Regions from separate parts of the Homo sapiens genome. Here region 2 is linked to region 1. The links come from fine-mapping of genetic effects on gene expression. A gene starts in region 1. The other region holds a variant in brackets. All regions are shown on one strand. Distances are from middle to middle.

Region 1 (8,935 bases):
ACTGCCGGAGGCCCTAGAAAGCCCAAACTTTTAAAATTTGTAGTTTACTGTGATTTCTGTTCTAATTCTAAAGGAAACATTCACTTTTGTATCCAACTTTGTATTTGTAATTTTCTTATAGAGGTTCCCTAAACTGTGTAAGTTTAAGGCTCCAAACGTGGATCTACCCTTGGTTGACATCGAGTAGTTAGAAAAATGTGTCCAACTCAACAATTGAATACCTACTCTGTGTAAATGAAGAGGACGTGCAGGGGAGTAAGAAAGACTGGGATGGTTCATGAGGATTCACGGGACACACTGCCTCCTTCCAGTCCCTTACAGTTTCATGGGGGCATGGATGTATGCCTAATATAGTTGCAGTCCCAAAATGGATTGAACAAAAAGAACTCAGTTACTGATGCCAATCTTCCTTTAACCAGCCAATTACCGAGGTCTGTAATTAAAAGCTCATCGGCCATTATTAATTGATGTGGCTATACTTCAGATAGCCATGCTCAAAAGCAATAGGTGCAGAAGATTAATAATAATCACAGCTTTGTAGTTCCTAATCACAAGTGGGAACTTTTGAGACAAGGCCACTGTAAACCTGCTAATCAGCTTGACCCAGAAAGACTTCGATTCTTTTTTTCTTTTCTTTCTTTCTTTTTTTTTTTTGATGTGGTCTTGCTCTGTTGCCCATGCCAAAGTGCAATGGTGCAATCACGGTTCACTGCAGTCTCGACCTCCTGGGTTCAAGAGATCCTCCCACCTCAGCCTCCCATGTAGCTGGGACTATAGGCTACAGGTGCACACCACCATGCTGGGCTAAGTTTTGTATTTTTTGTAGAGACAGGATCTCGCCATGTTGCTCACACTGGTCTCAAACTCCTGGGCTGAAGTGATCCGCCGACCTTGGCCTCCCAACATGCTGGGATTACAGGCATGTGCCACTGCACCCGGCCCAGTTCTCTTTAGCTTCTCCAGGAGATTGATCAATCGGTGTTAGGCAGATGTCAATGTGGATTTAGCCAGAATTAGCCACAACATTTTAATCAGGCCAAAATGTAACAAGGGCAGGAGTGACCGAAAAAAGACTCAAATTTCCGCTAGGAAATTTGCACCACTACAATATCCAATTGGCTCTTATTCCCTTGGCTAGAGAGATGCTTGAAAAAAAAGACAGTAGAAAGGAGGGTTAAGACTGGTTTCTTAAAGAAGTAAGTACAAGGAAGTATAAGTTCATGCTGCCTGCTTCTAAAAGAATTCTATTCCTCATAACTACATAACATTATAATGCTACTGATTCATAAGGAGTTTAGATTAATTCTATTGGAGAGGACACCAGGATTATTAGTGTTTATTTTCATCTAGGATCTTTATTCTTTAATGCTGTTGGTCCCACAGACACATTTCAGTATACAAAAACACTGCAGTGTTAATAGCCAAAAGAAAAGCCATTATGATGTGAATAGTGGTCATTGTGATCACTGTGACACAATTTTTAAAAACTTTTTCTTAGAGACGGAGGGTCTCACTATGTTGCTCAGGCTGGTCTTGAATTCCCGGACTCAAGCAATCCTCCTGCATTTGCCTCCCAAAGTGCTGGGATTACAGGTGTGAGCCACCGCACCTGGCCCAATTTTTAAAAACAATCATGTCCTTCATTTAAAAAAAAAAAAAAAAAAAAGGCCGGGCGCGGTGGCTCACGCCTGTAATCCCAGCACTTTGGGAGGCCAAGGCGGGTGGATCACGAAGTCAGGAGATCGAGACCATCCTGGCTAACACAATGAAACCCCATCTCTACTAAAAATACAAAAAACTAGCCGGGTGTGGTGGTGGGTGCCTGTGGTCCCAGCTACTTGGGAGGCTGAGGCAGGAAAATGGCATGAACCCAGGAGGTAGAGATTGCAGTGAGCCGAGATCGCACCACTGCACCCCAGCCTGGGCAACAGAGTGAGACTCCGTCTCAAAAAAAGAGACTGGTTTCTTACCTAAGTCACAAACTCCCAACTATAGAGTCTGGAATCTTCATTTAATGAGAACGCCAAGGGCGTGGCTGTCAATCCTATGACACCTGTCTGAGGTAGGTATTATTCCTGATTTAAGGAGGATGCAATGAGGCTTGATGTGGATTCACCCACCCCAAAGCCTGTGTTCTTAACCACTATGCAATACTGCCTCCCATCAAAGTCTCTATCTCAAGTCCACAAGACAACCCCATACATTGTAAAACTTTTTGGAGTGATTAGATAAAAACTTTTTTGTTTTTTTTTAAGTGTGTGTGCTGAAAGAGACCTAAGAGATTATTTAGCCAAGCCCCCTTATAGCCTGAGGAGAAATCTAGGTTCTAAGGAATGAAGTTGCTTCCCAATGTCACCTAGAAGTTCCTGCCAGAAGGAGTGTGAACTCAGGTCTGATACTGGGTTGTGTGCCTTTCCCAGCCTTGAGTTGGAAATCACCTCATTAAGGGCTAGAGCCCAGGGAGAGGCACCCAGTTTAAAAGAAAAGTGTCTTGAGGAGAAGACGTAAGGTGAGACAGCCAGTGACGACCATCCACATGTTACGGGTTGAATTGTCACCCCCACATTCCCCAAGTTCATATGTTCAGGGGTTTGTTGTTGTTGTTGTTGTTGTTTTGAGACAGAGTCTTGCTCTGTCTCCCAGGCTGGAATGCAGTGGCGTGATCTTGGCTCATTGCAACCTCCACCTCCCTGGGTTCAAACAATTCTTCTGCCTCAGCCTCCCGAGTAGCTGGGACTACAGGTACGCACCACCATGCCCCGCTAATTTTTTTATTTTTAGTAGAGACAGGGTTTCACCATGTTGGCCAGGCTGGTCTTGAACTCCTGACCTCAGTTGATCTGCCTGCCTCGGCCTCCCAAAGTGCTGGGATTACAGGCATGAACCACCGTGCCTGGGCATTCAGGTATCTTAGAATGGGACCTTACTTGGACATTACCTCATGATTACAGAGGTCATCAAGTTAAAATGAGGCAATTCGGGTGGGCCCTAGTCCAGTATGACTGGTGTCCTTATAGAAAGAAGGGATTTGCACACACACACCACAGGGAAGATGGTGTGAGGAGACATAGGGAGAAGATGGGCATCTGCAAGTCAGAGTGGCCGGGCACACATGCTCTTTCATGGGCCTCGGAAGCAGCCAGCCCTCCCACGCCGTGATTTTGTACTTCTAGTCTCCAGAACCAGGACAGACCATACATTTCGGTTGTTGAAGCCACTTAGTGTGTGGTACTTCGTTCCAGCAGCCCTTGAAAACAATAGACCACAGAACTTGGGAGGTGCCTGCAGAGGTTCTGGGGCTGAGGGACCGGTTGGAGAAGAGGAAAAAGGAGAGGCAAAGATGACAAAATCACGGATGGGGAGGCGAGATCTGGACAGAAAAACCAGGGATTAGCCAAGCGGGAACCAGTGAAAACGAACGTGGAGTCCATTTTTTCTAGATCTGGAAGATGGAGATCTAAAAGGACTGAGCTGCTAGAGAGGTTGCTGGTGTGTGCGTTGTCCTCACCCCACTGCACCACTGCGCCCAGCACACTGTGGGAGACACCCAGGGAAAGTCCTTCAGTTATTTGTGGGAGTGAACTGCAGTGTGGCTGAGGCCTGGAGCGAACCACGGTCAGTTTCCCCTGCCTGCAGCCCAGGCATAGCCCTGCGTTGGTTGTGCCCACACTCTGGGGGCAGCCTGAGTGCCAAGTGTGGTACTGCTCTCACTAGCATTTAACCTCTGTGCCCCAGCTTCCTCTTCTGTGAAAGGACAGTAATGACAGTACCTACCTCACTGGGTTATGAAGATTAAATAGAATAATGTGTACGCAGTGTTTGTAGCAATGCCTGGCATCAAGCACTGGGTAAACAGTATCTATTATTATCAAAGGCCTTTACGACAACAATCATTCTTCAAACGGCCCTCCAGCGAACGCTGGGCGCAAACTCCACGGTAACGGGGACCAATGTTGTTAGAGGTTGAGGTTCCTGGTAGGTCCCAGGTGCTAAAAGGAAGAGCAGCCTTTGGGATGTGAGCCCGAAAACCATCGTGTTGGCTTCTGAAGCCCCAAGATGGGCATGGCAGGGACGCGGAAGCCCTCAGAACCGCGGAAGCCCTCAGAACCGCACAGCAGGTGGCCGCCGTGGTGCAGCGCGCAGTCGGCCCTCAGCTCCCCTGCACCGGCGCGAGCTGCGGGCGCTGCCCACGTCAGGCTCTGCAGACACCAGACAGAAAAGGTCTTCCGGCCAGGGAGCGTGGGGGAAACCCTGTGGGGCCGCGCCCGTCAGTGTCAAGGAAAAACGGAGAGGAAGGCCCTTGCCTCCAGGGCCCTCGCAGCAGAATTCTGCCCGGCCTGCCAGGAGGCCAGCGGGGCACGGGCTGAGGGTGCAGGATCCGGAGGGCGCCGCCCGCCCCTCGGGCATCGCGGGGCCCAGGGTCCGCGGGGCCTCTGAGCTGAGGCGGTCCAATGTACCCTTTGTCCTTCCTCAGATTCATTATGAAATCCGAGGCAGTCTGGGCGACTCCAGCGGCGTTCGCCCGCCGCAGCCTCTCGACCGCCGGCCACCCGCCAGCCACGCGCGCCCAGACAGGAGGGCGGCCGGGCGCTCGGCGGGGCGGGGCCTGCCGGGGGCGGGGCCTGCGGGCGGGGCGGGGCCGCGGGAGGGCGGGGCCGGCGCGGCGAGCGCACCAGCAGCATCCTGGCTCAGCCGCGGCGGTGGCGGGGGCGCAACCAGCGGGCCGAGGCGGCGGCGCCAGCGGCGCCTTAAATAGCATCCAGAGCCGGCGCGGGGCAGGGAGTGGGCTGCAGTGACAGCCGGCGGCGGAGCGGCCGGTCCACGGAGGAGGTGAGTGCGCCCGCCGTGCGGAGCCGCGCCTGCTCCCGCGGCGGTGCCCGGGCCCCGGCCGAGGCGCCGGCTGACGTTGCCCTTCAGGGCCGAGCCCGGAGCAGCGGCCGCCGCGGAGGCGCGTGAGCCACCCCAGGCTCGTGGGGCCGCGCCGCCTTTCCGGCCTCCTGCCCGCGGCCCCGCTTCCCTCGGCAGCCGGAGGCCTCCGGGGTGCCCGTGCTGCCGCAGCTTCCTGTGTCTGAGTCGCGGGCGGCGCGGGCGCGGGGCTGGTGCGCGGCCGGGGATGCGCGCGGGACCGACCCTTGTGTGTGCGGCGGCGGGGACCGGCCCGGCGAAGCAGCCGGAGGCCGCGCTTCGGCTGGGAGGAGGTGGCCCAGCTGGGCCGCTGACGTTGCCCTCGTCCGCGGCCCCCGCCTGCCCAGAGGCCGGGCTCGCGGGCGTTCGGACCGCGCGTGGGGCGAGACTGCACTCGCGCCCGCTGAGATGCCGGCCCCACGCAGCGCGGCGGCACGAGGCCCACAGGCAGCTCAGAGGCCGCTGCCAGAGGCAGACATTCTCTCGGTGACTCCAGAGGAGTGCCCGTGGCCCTTGCACTTGGCCGTGGAGTCATTGATCTAAGGAGTGCTGGCATTTTTTGAAATTGAGAAGCAAAGATGATGTCTGTCACCTGGCAGCGTAGACGGAGAGTGGCGGTAGATGACTTGAATGGACACGTGGATTCGAGTCTGGGGACAGGCGTTCCCCCAGTCGGTGCGTTGTGAGAGTGTGGAAACCCCTTCCCCACTCAGTCCAATTTCAAGGTTATGGAGCATAATTAAGAGTGACCATTCTAAAAGCGTTCTCTAGTGCCCTGGCTAAGACTTTTAAGCTTCTTGGTGCAGGAGTGTCTAAAGTCCCGCGACTCTCACTGCCCTGTCTTTTATTTTCTTGACCTTTGATTAGCGTTGAGAGAAACTGGTTAAATCTTGCAGTTTCTGCCACCCATTTCACAACTTAACCTGTGATTGTCCCAAAGAAAACAATTATTGGCTTCTTGCTAGCAAAAAAATCAAAGGCTTCCGGTTGATTGTTTCTTTCTTTTTTTTCTTTTTTCAAGTGGACGTGGAAGGTTAGGCTGGCTAAAACTTAAAGTTTGAGTTGTAGGTCTGTGCTGGGTAGGCTTGAGAAGATGGAGCTTTTTAAGGAACCATTGCTCGCCATCAGATTGGAGCCAGACAGTGCAGTGTGATATAGTGGAAAAGGACCAGGTCTTGGGAGACTTACTTTCTTGTTCTGACTCAACTCGGAAAACACCTCCCTAGTCTGAGGCCCCCCTCCTTATATTTGTGAACAAACTGCATTAGACTAAAATCTTTCACGAGTCCAAATTCTGCGACTAGAAAAATAAACTTGTTAGCCGCACACCTTATACCTCTCCCCTTTAAAACAGACATATTAAAGACTTCTGTTTTCTGAATTTACTGTAAACAGAATACTTAAAAAAAAATTACCCAGACAGGCGTGGTGGCTCACTGTAATCCCAGCACTTTGGGAGACCGAGGCGGGCAGATCATTTGAGGTCAGGAGTTCGAGACCAGCCTGACCAACATGGAGAAACCCTATCTCTACTAAAAATACAAATAATTAGCCAGGCGTGGTGGCATGCATCTCTAGTCCCAGCTACTCGAGAGGCTGAGCCAGGAGAATCGCTTGAACTCAGGAGGCAGAAGTTGTGATGAGCTGAGATCCCGCCACTGCACTCCAGACTGGGCAACAGAGCAGGACTCTGTAAAAAACAAAACAAAACAAAAAATTACCCTTCCCCACAATTATAAGCATTTTGGCATATTTCCTTCCTGTCTCTGTTGTTCCTATTTTGGCAGTATTTTTATTGTTATCGCAGGCAGCCTGACTGAAAAGAAATCTGGGCTTCTAAGTTTTTGGTATTTAGGAGGTAGATACAAGTGACCCATGCATGTAGGGTTAGGTATCTATTTATACCATGCAGGTAGAGTTTTCATAGCCACCTCTACTTTTGGGTGAAGTTTAGGCTAACTGAAAGTGTACCAGCATGCATGGTGTATGCAGAAAAATGAACGTAATTCAGATTATGTGATAGTTTTCTCTTGTTGCCATTATATATAACCCAGGGCTTACCACAAACTGAAATTTCTTATGCATTGACATTTAGCATTTGATGTAAAATGACTATCTCAGAGTTGCTGCCACAAACACTGGTAAAACTGTCCCTACTTTCTAGCATGCTTAATGTCTAGGTCTTGCTACATCTTTTTTGATGTAACTGTTTTGTGGAAAATGGTTGTGTGTTTGGGGAGGCTTTTGAGAAAAGATAAGGTTGTCTTGTCATTATAACTGGGTATTTCTCCTCTCTCCCTTCCAGTTTCACTTGTCTGGAAATAGCAAGACTATAGGAGTAGTAATTTCTAGATATTTATAGTCAGTAACCTTAGAGGAATGTTTAGTTTTTAAGATCAATTGAATTTATTGTGTAAGTTTGCCATTTAAAACAGGTGCCCATTTGTGTTTACTGTCTCTTGTAACCAAACTCTGTTCAATTAGAATCCATTAGTAATGTTTTGTGGAGAGTCTTGTTTGGATGATGCAGTGCATGAGGCTCCTGTACTACAAAATAGAAAAGAAGTTCCTCTAAGGCAGCTCAAAGCTGTTGATATCCTGAAGCCTTTTTAGGCCTCCCTCTCTGACAGGCGGTGATCTGACAGGAGGTAGATAAAGGTGCCGGAGTTTTTAGTGAAGGTTGGCAGTCCAACTTGGTAGTCAGACAAACACATGATGGTCAAAAGTGCCTTTGACACTGGGGCCTGGAGAAGAATTCTCAGTGGCCAGAGCTGATCTGAAGCTGCAGGCAGTTGAGTTTGAGTTTCAACATGTTGGTACTTCAAGGGGCTTCTGAAAAGTTTTAAAGGAGCACAAGCCCTGAAGGAGTAGCTGAACTTAGTGAACTGGAGAAGGCAGGGGCAGTTTTACCAGGGTTTGTGGCAGCGACTCTAAGATTGTCATTTTACATCAAATGCTGAATGTCAATGCATAAGAAATTTCAGTTTGTGGCAAGCCTTGGGTTGTATATAATGGCAAGAAGAGAAAACTATCACATAATCTGAGTTATGTTCATTTTCTACATCATGACATTTTCACTTTCTTTTTTTTTTCTTTTTTCCCAGATAAGGTCTCACTCTGTCGCCCAGGTTGGAGTACAGGCATGATCATGGCTCGTTGCAGCCTCTCCACCTCCCTGGGCTCAGTTGATCCTCCCACTTCAGCCTCTCCAGTAGCTTAGACTACAGGCGCACATCACTATGCCCAGCTAATTTTTGTATTTTTTTCGTAGTGAAGCGGTTTTGCCATATTGCCCAGTTGTCTCGAACTCCTGGGCTCAAGCGATTTGCCCTCCTTGGCCTCCCCAAAGTGCTAGGATTACAGGCGTGAGCCACTGCACCCAGCCCACTTTCATGTTCTTGACTGTGTTAGAAACAACACAGTATTGATTCACTTATGACCTTTGAGGAATCAAGAGGGGCGGGTGAAATATTGGAGACTCCTTGAAGTGTGGCTGGCTTGGAGGGTGTCACCCTTGGACAAAAACTTAAGTGGAGGTGAGTAAGGGCCCTGCTCCCCTGTGCTGCCTGCCTTAGAAGGATGTGATCATCTGGAGGCAAATAGCTTGTTGCTTGAGGCCAGGAGTTCAAGACCAGCCTGGGCAACAGAGCAAGACCCCATCTCTAGAAAAAAAAAAGTAAAAACAATAAAATAAAATCTCAAAACTGGTGGTTCCATATAGGTGCCTGGGCTGATTCTCTTTATGAATTATTTGCTGGTCTTCAAGTTTAAATAAAATTCTGAAAGCTGTCTAATATCTAAAAACCACTTGCCACAGAAAAGCTGTATTTGTTTTTCATATTTTAAGAGTCATACATACTTACTGGAGAAAATTTGGGAAATAGGAAAAATGAAGCTCTTCCAGAGATTAAATACTATTAACATTTTGTTATATTTCCTTCCAGTCTTTTTTCCCTATACAATAAACAAATTTTAAGCATACATTGTTAATTAAAGATTACAATTTTGACAATTTAACTTTATCACCTAA
Region 2 (8,935 bases), 28 kb before region 1:
GAGGACCAGCTGGGACCTTTGGGACCCCGAGGTGACGATGTGGAGTTGTGATCCCGGGTCTTCAGAGGATCAGCTGGGACCTTTGGGACCCCGAGGTGACGATGTGGAGTTGTGATCCCGGGTCTTCAGAGGACCAGCTGGGACCTTTGGGACCCCGAGGTGACGATGTGGAGTTGTGATCCCGGGTCTTCAGAGGACCAGCTGGGACCTTTGGGACCCCGAGGTGACGATGTGGAGTTGTGATCCCGGGTCTTCAGAGGACCAGCTGGGACCTTTGGGACCCCGAGGTGACGATGTGGAGTTGTGATCCCGGGTCTTCAGAGGACCAGCTGGGACCTTTGGGAGATGCAGAGCTGCTGCGGCGCTCTTCACATGCACTTGATCTGCTGTGTCCACTAAATCTACCCCACTTCTAACACCCCAGTCCTGGACTCCGTGGGTGCAAAACGTGAGTCTCTGCACCCCTCTTCACATCCCTGGGGGGCTTGAGAATAAGCCAGCAGCCCTGAGCTGGGCTCCTTGGCCTGGCCATGACTGCCAATGAGGGGCCTTGAGTCTGTGTCCTCAGCCCCCAGCCTGTCCCCATTTTGGGGACTTGAACAGACCCACAGTGTCAGTTCCTCCCATAAAAAGATTTCAGGGGACAGCAGCACTTCCTCTTGGCCCCCAGGCACTTGAAGGCCGCCTGCACCCCCCATTCCTAGGCCTTGCCAGCCTGAGGGCAAGCTCCTTACATGACCTGCAGCTTCAGAAACTAGGCCCTCCTCCTTACTTCCCATCACCCATTTTGTCAAAGAACCTAGAATATTTTGTTATCCGAGAAGCCTGGCTTTCGACAAACCGTAGGATTGCTAGTATCTCTTTATGGAGTGGACTTGAACTGTTTATTGCAACTGTGACATGTGGCAAATCATTTTACTGTTCTGAGGCTTTACTTCCTTCTAGTTAGAATGAGCATTAGGCCGGGCATGGTGGCTCACGCTTGTAATCCCAGCACTTTGGGAGGCCAAGGCAGGTGAATCACGAGGTCAGGAGTTCAAGACCAGACTGGCCAAGATGGTGAAACCCCGTCTCTACTAAAAATTCAAAAATTAGCTGGATGTGGTGGCGGGCACCTGTAATCCCAGCTACTCGGGAGGCTGAGGCAGAGAATTGCTTGAACCCGGGAGGCAGAGGTTGCAGTGAGACAAGATCGTGCCACTGCACTCCAGCCTGGGTGACAGAGCAAGACTCCATCTCAAAAAAAAAAGAAAAAAAAAAGAGCATTAAATATATGACATCTTTAAAACTGTGTGGATTTAGAACTGAGGTATCTTCTTTGTTACCTGAGGAGGGAAACATGCTTATGGGGCTAATGTCATTTTAATTTTGGGGTAGGTCTGTCTGTCTTCTGTGGGGTGGGGGAGAGTGAAAATTTTCTCTGCTGTAGGTGAAGACCTCTAGGCTTTATTTTCAACTCATATGCCTCATGCTATTGTTCGAGAATCATCTTTTCTATTCATATAAGCTATATCATACTGATCTTTTTTTTAACCTTATTTATTATTTTTTATTTTTGAGATGGAGTCTCCCCCTGTCACCCAGGCTGGAGTATAGTGGTGCAATCTCAGTTCACTGCAACCTCTGCCTCCAGGGTTCAAGTGATTCCCCTGCCTCAGCCTCCAGAGTAGCTGGGATTACAGGCGCGCACCACCACACCTGGATAATTTTTGTATTTTTAGTAGAGACGGGGTTTCACCATGTTGTCCAGGCTGGTCTCGAACTCGTGACCTCGGGTGATCCGCCCGACTCAGCCTCCCAAAGTGCTGGGATTACAGACATGAGCCACTGCACTCAGCCCCCCTTTTTTTTTTTAACTTTAAAATCCACTTGTGACACTTTTGTAAAATACCATCAACCTTGTGTATTAAGCTACTGTTGTGACAGCCATGATAATTTCCCTCTGAAAATGGTTTGGAGACATGAAATAATAAAAATAACCTTTAAAATGCATTATCACTCTGATTCTATTAGGAAAAACGGAAGTCACTGGATTTAAACTATGTCAATGCCCTGTACTTTCTGTCTGTCAGTAGGTGCTGTAACTGTTGGCTAAATGATTATTTTTCATGCTTCCTTTCTCATTTCTGCTTTTTTAGATATTTAAAATGTCCTTGTTTCTTGGTGAGCAGAATTATTTCCTACCTCATGACCATGAGTCATGACCTTATACTCTTCTTTCAGTACAGGAGAAAGCTTCATTAATTTACTAATGCATTCATTCCACAAGTAAACTTCTGCAATCCTCGTTTATTCATATACTTTGACAAAAACAAAGAGACCCACAAGCTTTTTGAGTCTTCACAACCCAAAACATGTATTTGAAACTGAAAATTCAATCATTCCATGTTTATAGGCATATTGCTTGATAGAAACATATAAATCATTACCTGAATTTTTTTTTTTTTTTTTTTTTTTTGAGACGGAGTCTCACTCTGTCACCCAGGCTGGAGTGCAGTGGTGCAGTCTCAGCTCACTACAACCTCTGCCTCCCGGGTTCAAGCTATTCTCCTGCCTCAGTCTCCTGAGTAGCTGGGATTACAGGCGCCCACCACCACACCCGGCTAATTTTTTTTTTTTAATTTTTAATCGAGACGGAGTTTTACCATGTTGGCCACGCTGGTCTCGAACTCCTGACCTCTGGTGATCCACCCGCCTTGGCCTCCCAAAGTGCTGGGATTACAGGCATGAGCCACCGCGCCCAGCCTGGATTTTTTTTAATCCAACCCAGTTCCATATTTTCCTCTAGAGAGACTGACTCACCAAGCCTATCTCCTTTTCCTGGAAACACAATCAAATTAACTTTCCAGTCACCGCTGTGTCTAGGTGTGGCCATATGAGTAGTTCTCACCAGTGGAATGTAGTGAAAACGAGATGCTGTCTCTTAGGGACTAAGGAAGCTATCTTTCCTCTTCCGACATTTGCTGACTGGTCGATGCTAGATGATCTTGAGACCCTGTGCTGAGGACTGGAGAACTACAGGAAAGGAGCAGTATCTCTGAATTATCGTGTGGAAGGTCACTTGTCTAGCCCCTGATGACTGTGAGGTAAGTCGTTAGGGATCTGGGGTTGTCTGATACAGCAGTTAGCAGGTCCTGACTGACATATCCCTCTTATTCTTTAAGTTGAACAAATTAGAGACTGGAGTGTTTTGGGTAGCCTTGCTATATGGCATGGTCGAAGACGGTGCTTCGCAGGTGATTTACAACCCTCCTACCATTTACTCTGTCTTCATTTCAAGCAGTATAACCTATAATTTCCTAATCTTCAGCAGAATAGGAAAAGGGGCTCAAAGCCACAAACACACACGCTTCCTTTCAATGTACCTTTGTTGCTCAGCCACAGTGGCGAGTTCACGCGCCTGGCAAGACCTCTCCCTATTTGGGCATTTTGTGAATACAGAAGAATGGGCGCCCTGGTGTGACCCAACATCAGAATCCAAAACATGGCATCTTTACCTAGCCCTTTTCGCTTCTTTTAGATCATTCAATAAACATAATCTGTTTTCTTTCAAAATAACATGGTTATCTAATTCCCTTCATTAGCAGCTAGCAAAAGAGGCCCTGGGCTTCCCGTGAGCTAATTCACTGGGTCCCTGAGGTCGTTGCGGGCTTTCCCTCTCACTCTTGCAACAGACACAATCTCACTTCTTTAATGTAAAGTATGGTTTTTCTGTCGAAATGTGCTTCCTGTTTTCTTTATCGTAACTTACAGGCATGATTGCCTGGGTCTTCTCTCATTATTCCCAGTCCACTGCCTCTTCATATTTAGTGGTACTTCTGTCTTACTGGTCCCTGGAAATTTATCTCAGATCATTTCCTTTTGGGTCTATCTCTTCTTTAAGAGAAATAATTTTAAAGTCAAAGCTCCATAATACAGAGATCTGTTCTCTTTCCCACCATCTGTTTTCTGAACCTCCCCTCCTGGTTCAAGCCTCTGTAGGATAATTTGAACACAAACCATTGACTGCCAACTGAAATCGAACAAGATAATGTCCAATTTGCCCTTTTTTCTCTCTGATTTGTCCCAATGTTTACATTTCTCCATCAATCAATGAACAAATCACTTTGGTACAGTGTGCCAGTAGCTTTGAGAGGAGCACAGAAGCAATACAAGCAAGCTCACCAGTAACTTATGAGGCTCGCTTACCCAAAGCCATTCAAGAATAAGACAGTAGATAACACCAGCCACCTGGTGTATATAGAAAGTGCATTCAGAGGGCCGGGCACGGTGGCTCACGCCTGTAATCCCAGCACTTTGGGAGGCCGAGGCGGGCAGATCACGAGGTCAGGAGATCGAGACCATCCTGGCTAACACGGTGAAACCCCGTCTCTACTAAAAATGCAAAAAATTAGCTGGGCGTGGTGGTGGGCGCCTGTAGTCCCAGCTACTCGGGAGGCTGAGGCAGGAGAATGGCATGAACCCGGGAGGCGGAGCTTGCAGTGAGCCGAGATCGCGCCACTGCACTCCAGGCTGGGCGACAGAGCGAGACTCTGTCTCAAAAAAAAAAAAAAGAAAAAAGAAAGTGCATTCAGAATTGGGGAGGGGAGAGATCAATGTGTGTTAGAGCCAAGGAAACATTTAGTAAAGATGGAATTTAGCCCTTAAGGACTGTCAGGCCAGAGCAATAGGAAGTACAAACATTTCATATGTAGAGAATAACACGAACAAGGCACAAGAGCAGAAATATGAGTAACAGCCTCAGTGGGTCCTATTCGTTATGCACCTATCATGTCCCTTGCACTATGCCGGGCCCTTTGCACTCATTATATACGATGCTCACAGCAATCCTGAGATTG[T/C]GAGGCGGGTATTTTACAAATACAAGAAGTCAGTTTTAGAGAAGTACTAAATGGCAGACTCAGGATTCATGTCTGCACTTCATTCACTGCGTAGGAAGGTGAGGGTGGTTAAGGAGGTGCCACTCTGGGAGCAGAAGGCAGTCACTGGAGCAGATCAGTGGAGCTACGTTACGGAGATCCGGGATGGTCCGTGAGGATGCTGGGCCTCACCTGGTAAGCAACAGGGACTGCTGTAGAAGCTTTAGCACAGAAATAGGATGACAAACTTTAGTCAGACAAAATCTGAGTTCAAGGCCGTGTTCTGTGTTAGCTGTGTGACTGGGAACCACCGTTAAACCTGCTGAGATTGTTTCCTCCTCTATAAAATGTGTTCAACAGCAATATCAATGTATAACATTGAAAGGCTTAAATGAGATTTTACTAAAGCACCTGAGATATAGTTAGCATTTACTATATGATAGAGGTTGTTGCTGTTACTACTGCTACTACCACCACCACTGCTACCACAACAGCACTTAAGGAAGGATGATAATCTGGAGAAAAACAGCTAACAGATATTTCGTGAAGACATGAAATGAGATGGCATAGATAGATAGATAGATAGATAGATAGATAGATAGAGTTATATGCCATTTGGTTATATATACATAATCAAAACTTGACTCTGGGAGTATAGATGAATAAAGGTGAATTAGAATCTAGTATAAAGAGAGAAGATCGGAGAATGAGGATTGACACATCTGGGGCACCCACAGTTGGGGAGCGGGACACGGGAGAGAGTCAGTGACAGACACAAGGAAAATGCAGAGGAAGAGGTAAGATGGTCACGTAGACCACAGCAGTCAGGTAACAGAAGAGGTTCCTCAAAAGGCTAGGGAGGTCTACTGTGCCCAGGGCTGCTGTGGGGAGAAAAGATTGAGGACTAGGAAAAGGCTTGTGCAGTTGGGGCAGTGACAACATGGAACACAGACTGGGAGGAACCAGGTGGGAATAAAAGACACTGGCCACAGCCACAGGCACTGCTCATTCATCTGAGGTGTAAGTATAGAGAGAGAACTCGGCTGTGGCTTGGAAGTAACAGCAAGACAAAGAAGGAGGTTATTTTTAGTTCTTGGAGAGGCCAATACCGCTGGTAATCATGAGCGAGCTTCAGTTCATCTCTACCCCTTACTATGGTGCAACTCCTCATGGACTGGTTCCTGAGCCTGCACCCTCTTAGGGTGCAGGTTAGTCCTGCACTTAGTCTGGCTTCTGTTAACTTGTTTTCTCTTTCAGGTCTCACTGTTGCTAACCCCACTCATCAACTTGATCTGTTTGCCCCCAATCCCACCATTTTGCATGACATTATGGATCCTCTGATCTTTAACAAATCCATCCAAGATTGTCTGTTTCTTCTTCTAAGGTGTCACCAGGAATGAAGATTCTTTCACCTAATTTATTTTTTTCTGGTTTCACACGTGTCTGAAAAAATAATAGCAATTATTATTATTATCATTGTAGGATTCATTTCACTCCTCTCAAACACATTCAAAAAGTCTCTTCATCTCTTCCATCATGGTGATGCTCAACTGTTACCCAACTATCCAACTGTATCTTGGAGTTTTGTAATTCCATCATGAGTTGTACTCAACTGTTATCCAACATATCTTGGAGCATGCACCAGGATGCTCCCTGACACAGCTCACTTTGCAAGTAATTCTTAGACACACACTTTCTCCACCAGGCCTGTCTAGTTGAAGTTCTCTATATCCCTGCCCCCCTCCCCACCCTGGTTAAGCATAGGACTTCCATGGTTACATCCCATTTATTCCTTTCCCAAACATGCTTAATGCATTTCATCTCCAGTTACAAACATCGTCTGCTAATGAACAATGTAGATAGTTACCATGTTGTATAAATAGTTACTTATTTCCCTTCGTTGTTGGTTTTATCCAATAAACTAGCCCGATCAGCTTCATTTTATATCACCTTATCTCATACAGATGAGAAACTGTATGTATTTCAGCCTGTCTAAACTGGAGGTAACGCTAGACTGCAGTATCCCTGCACAGTGTCGTATTAGAAATGGCACCCTATAAATTTTTTATGAGTTAATAATGATTGTGATCCCATTCCTATTTTCTACAAGTTCTTCTGTTATGGTGGCAATTAAATAGCCTCACCTTCCTTTCACTTTCTGCAAACCTGCTGCAAGTCATCATTAACTTTCTTAATTGGTAGCGGCTCTGAATTCCAGTCTTTCAGAGTTCCCGTAAACAGCATCTTTCTTAATACTTATGTCATAATGTTTTTCTCCTTTCCTTGCATTTCATTCTGCCTTTGGGCAGGAACAGCATCATTTCCTGCTCTTCTGGGGTTTCAACACTGACTGCAAAGCACCCTTGCTCATCTCACTGGGAGATTCTGCAGCCAAGCAGAGATTTGCATAAAGCCCATCCACCCTTCACCAGCACAGGATACGCAGACTTAACTGCAGGGACTCTTGGTGACTAGTCTCTGTGGTGCACACTCTCCACCCTACCACCAAAAAGGTCCCCAGTACCCTAAAAGGAACTATGTACTCAAATATCACCTCAAATAAGATGAGGTCTTTCTGAGAGAAAAGAGATGTTGATGCACGTGACGGGGAGGGCATAGGAGAGGGTTGATATAAAATGCAATTACAGCCTCTTATGCTTTCCAAAGTGGGGGATGATTCAATGATTCCTGACTGGTCCACAGCCATATATCAATTGAGGTTATAATACTAATTTGAATTGCAAATCTCTGAAAAGAAGGGGACAAGCTAAGGAGATAAAATTTAACAGGGTGAGTCCTGAATTTAGATTTAAACAAACTCCACAAGTATAAGAAGGCAGAGGCTGGCAACAGTACTTGCTGTCATGTTTAGTCGGCCACTGGTCAGTCTGAGACAGCAGTGGGTGTGATCGTGTAGCAGCTATGGAAAGCTTATGCTGCATTTAATAATAATAGTCATACTTTAAAGCATGTTTCAGTTATGAATTCATTCTGACCAGAAAAGTAACTTGCACTAGCTTAACAGTCAAATAGCAAGAAGCATAGAGAAGTGGCCGCTTGCTGTGCTTCAGCAGCTCAACAGTGTCTCTATTCTCTTAGCCTCTTCCTCCTGCTTGCCACCTCTCAGTCACAAGACGGCTGCTGCGACTCAGGCTCATGTCCCAATTCAAGGCAGCAAGAAGGCCATGGAGCGGCACCTGCCAGGTATGTCCCTTTCCCAGGCATCCCCAGCAGATTTCTCACTGTCTGAAACTGCATCCCACGGCGTTCTTAGGTGCGAGGCTGGTCTGGAGAGTCAATGCTTGGGTTTTCCAATACCTGCATGGGACATGGGCAAGATGGAAGGGAGTTGGGTTTAGGAAACCAGTAGTGCCAGCCCTTTACTCGTATCATATCTGATCCCCACAGCAACCCTGAGGAGTAGCTATTTATCATCCTTATTGAGCAAATGAAGAAAATCAGAACCAGCAACATCAAGAAAAAATGAGGAAAGACATACATTAGTAAATAATAAAGCCAGGGTTCCAATTCAGATCAGGTTGAATCCAAAATTCCTCTCCCTGCCATTATAACGCATCACAGTGTTCAGGTCATGTGGGTCTGGGAAGGATGAATCATATTCAACTATCCCACCACGTTTTTGGCCATTTTTTAAAAACTAAAGTATAACACACATCTTGTTATGTTAACACTGACATCTTGAGAATATTAAATCTTCCAATCCATGAACATAGACTGTTTTTACATTTATTTGGTTTCTTCTTTGATTTATTTCAACAAAGCTTTGTAGTTTTCACAGTATAAGTTTTGTACATCTTTGTTAAATTTACTTCTAAGTATTTTAGAATTTTTATCTTAAGTGAAATTACTTTCTTAATTTCATTTTTGGTTTGCTCATTGCTACTGTATACAATACAATTAATATTTGTACATTGCTCTTAATCCTGTAACCTTGCCGGACCTTATTCATTTTAAGTTTGTTCTTTGAATATGTGAAACATTAAAAAGATTTTAAAAGCCAGAACTATACACAAAGGTATTGTCCTTGTAATTTTATATCTGATTGGAAGAATTCTCCA

What was found. PIP is the estimated chance that this variant, and not a neighbour inherited with it, causes the effect.
Region 2: its variant is fine-mapped to the expression of ACSL1 in whole blood (TOPMed, PIP above 0.99).

Annotation. Positions count from the first base shown.
Region 1 is chr4:184,821,811-184,830,745 of GRCh38, reverse strand. ACSL1 (acyl-CoA synthetase long chain family member 1) reads left to right here and starts at 4,778. Exons shown (of 21, transcript NM_001995.5): 1 at 4,778-4,830. LOC105377587 (a long non-coding RNA gene) reads right to left here and starts at 4,575. Exons shown (of 3, transcript XR_939564.4): 1 at 3,775-4,575. RefSeq lists enhancers at 3,600-3,879, 4,050-4,099, 3,706-4,209, 5,460-5,529 and a silencer at 4,330-5,289.
Region 2 is chr4:184,849,620-184,858,554 of GRCh38, reverse strand. MIR3945HG (MIR3945 host gene) reads left to right here and starts at 2,903. Exons shown (of 3, transcript NR_132989.1): 1 at 2,903-3,086; 2 at 7,956-8,060. It overlaps MIR3945 (microRNA 3945), which reads left to right and starts at 7,445; the gene lies at 7,445-7,542. RefSeq lists an enhancer at 7,926-7,995. The variant T/C (reference allele first, on the strand shown) is at 4,839.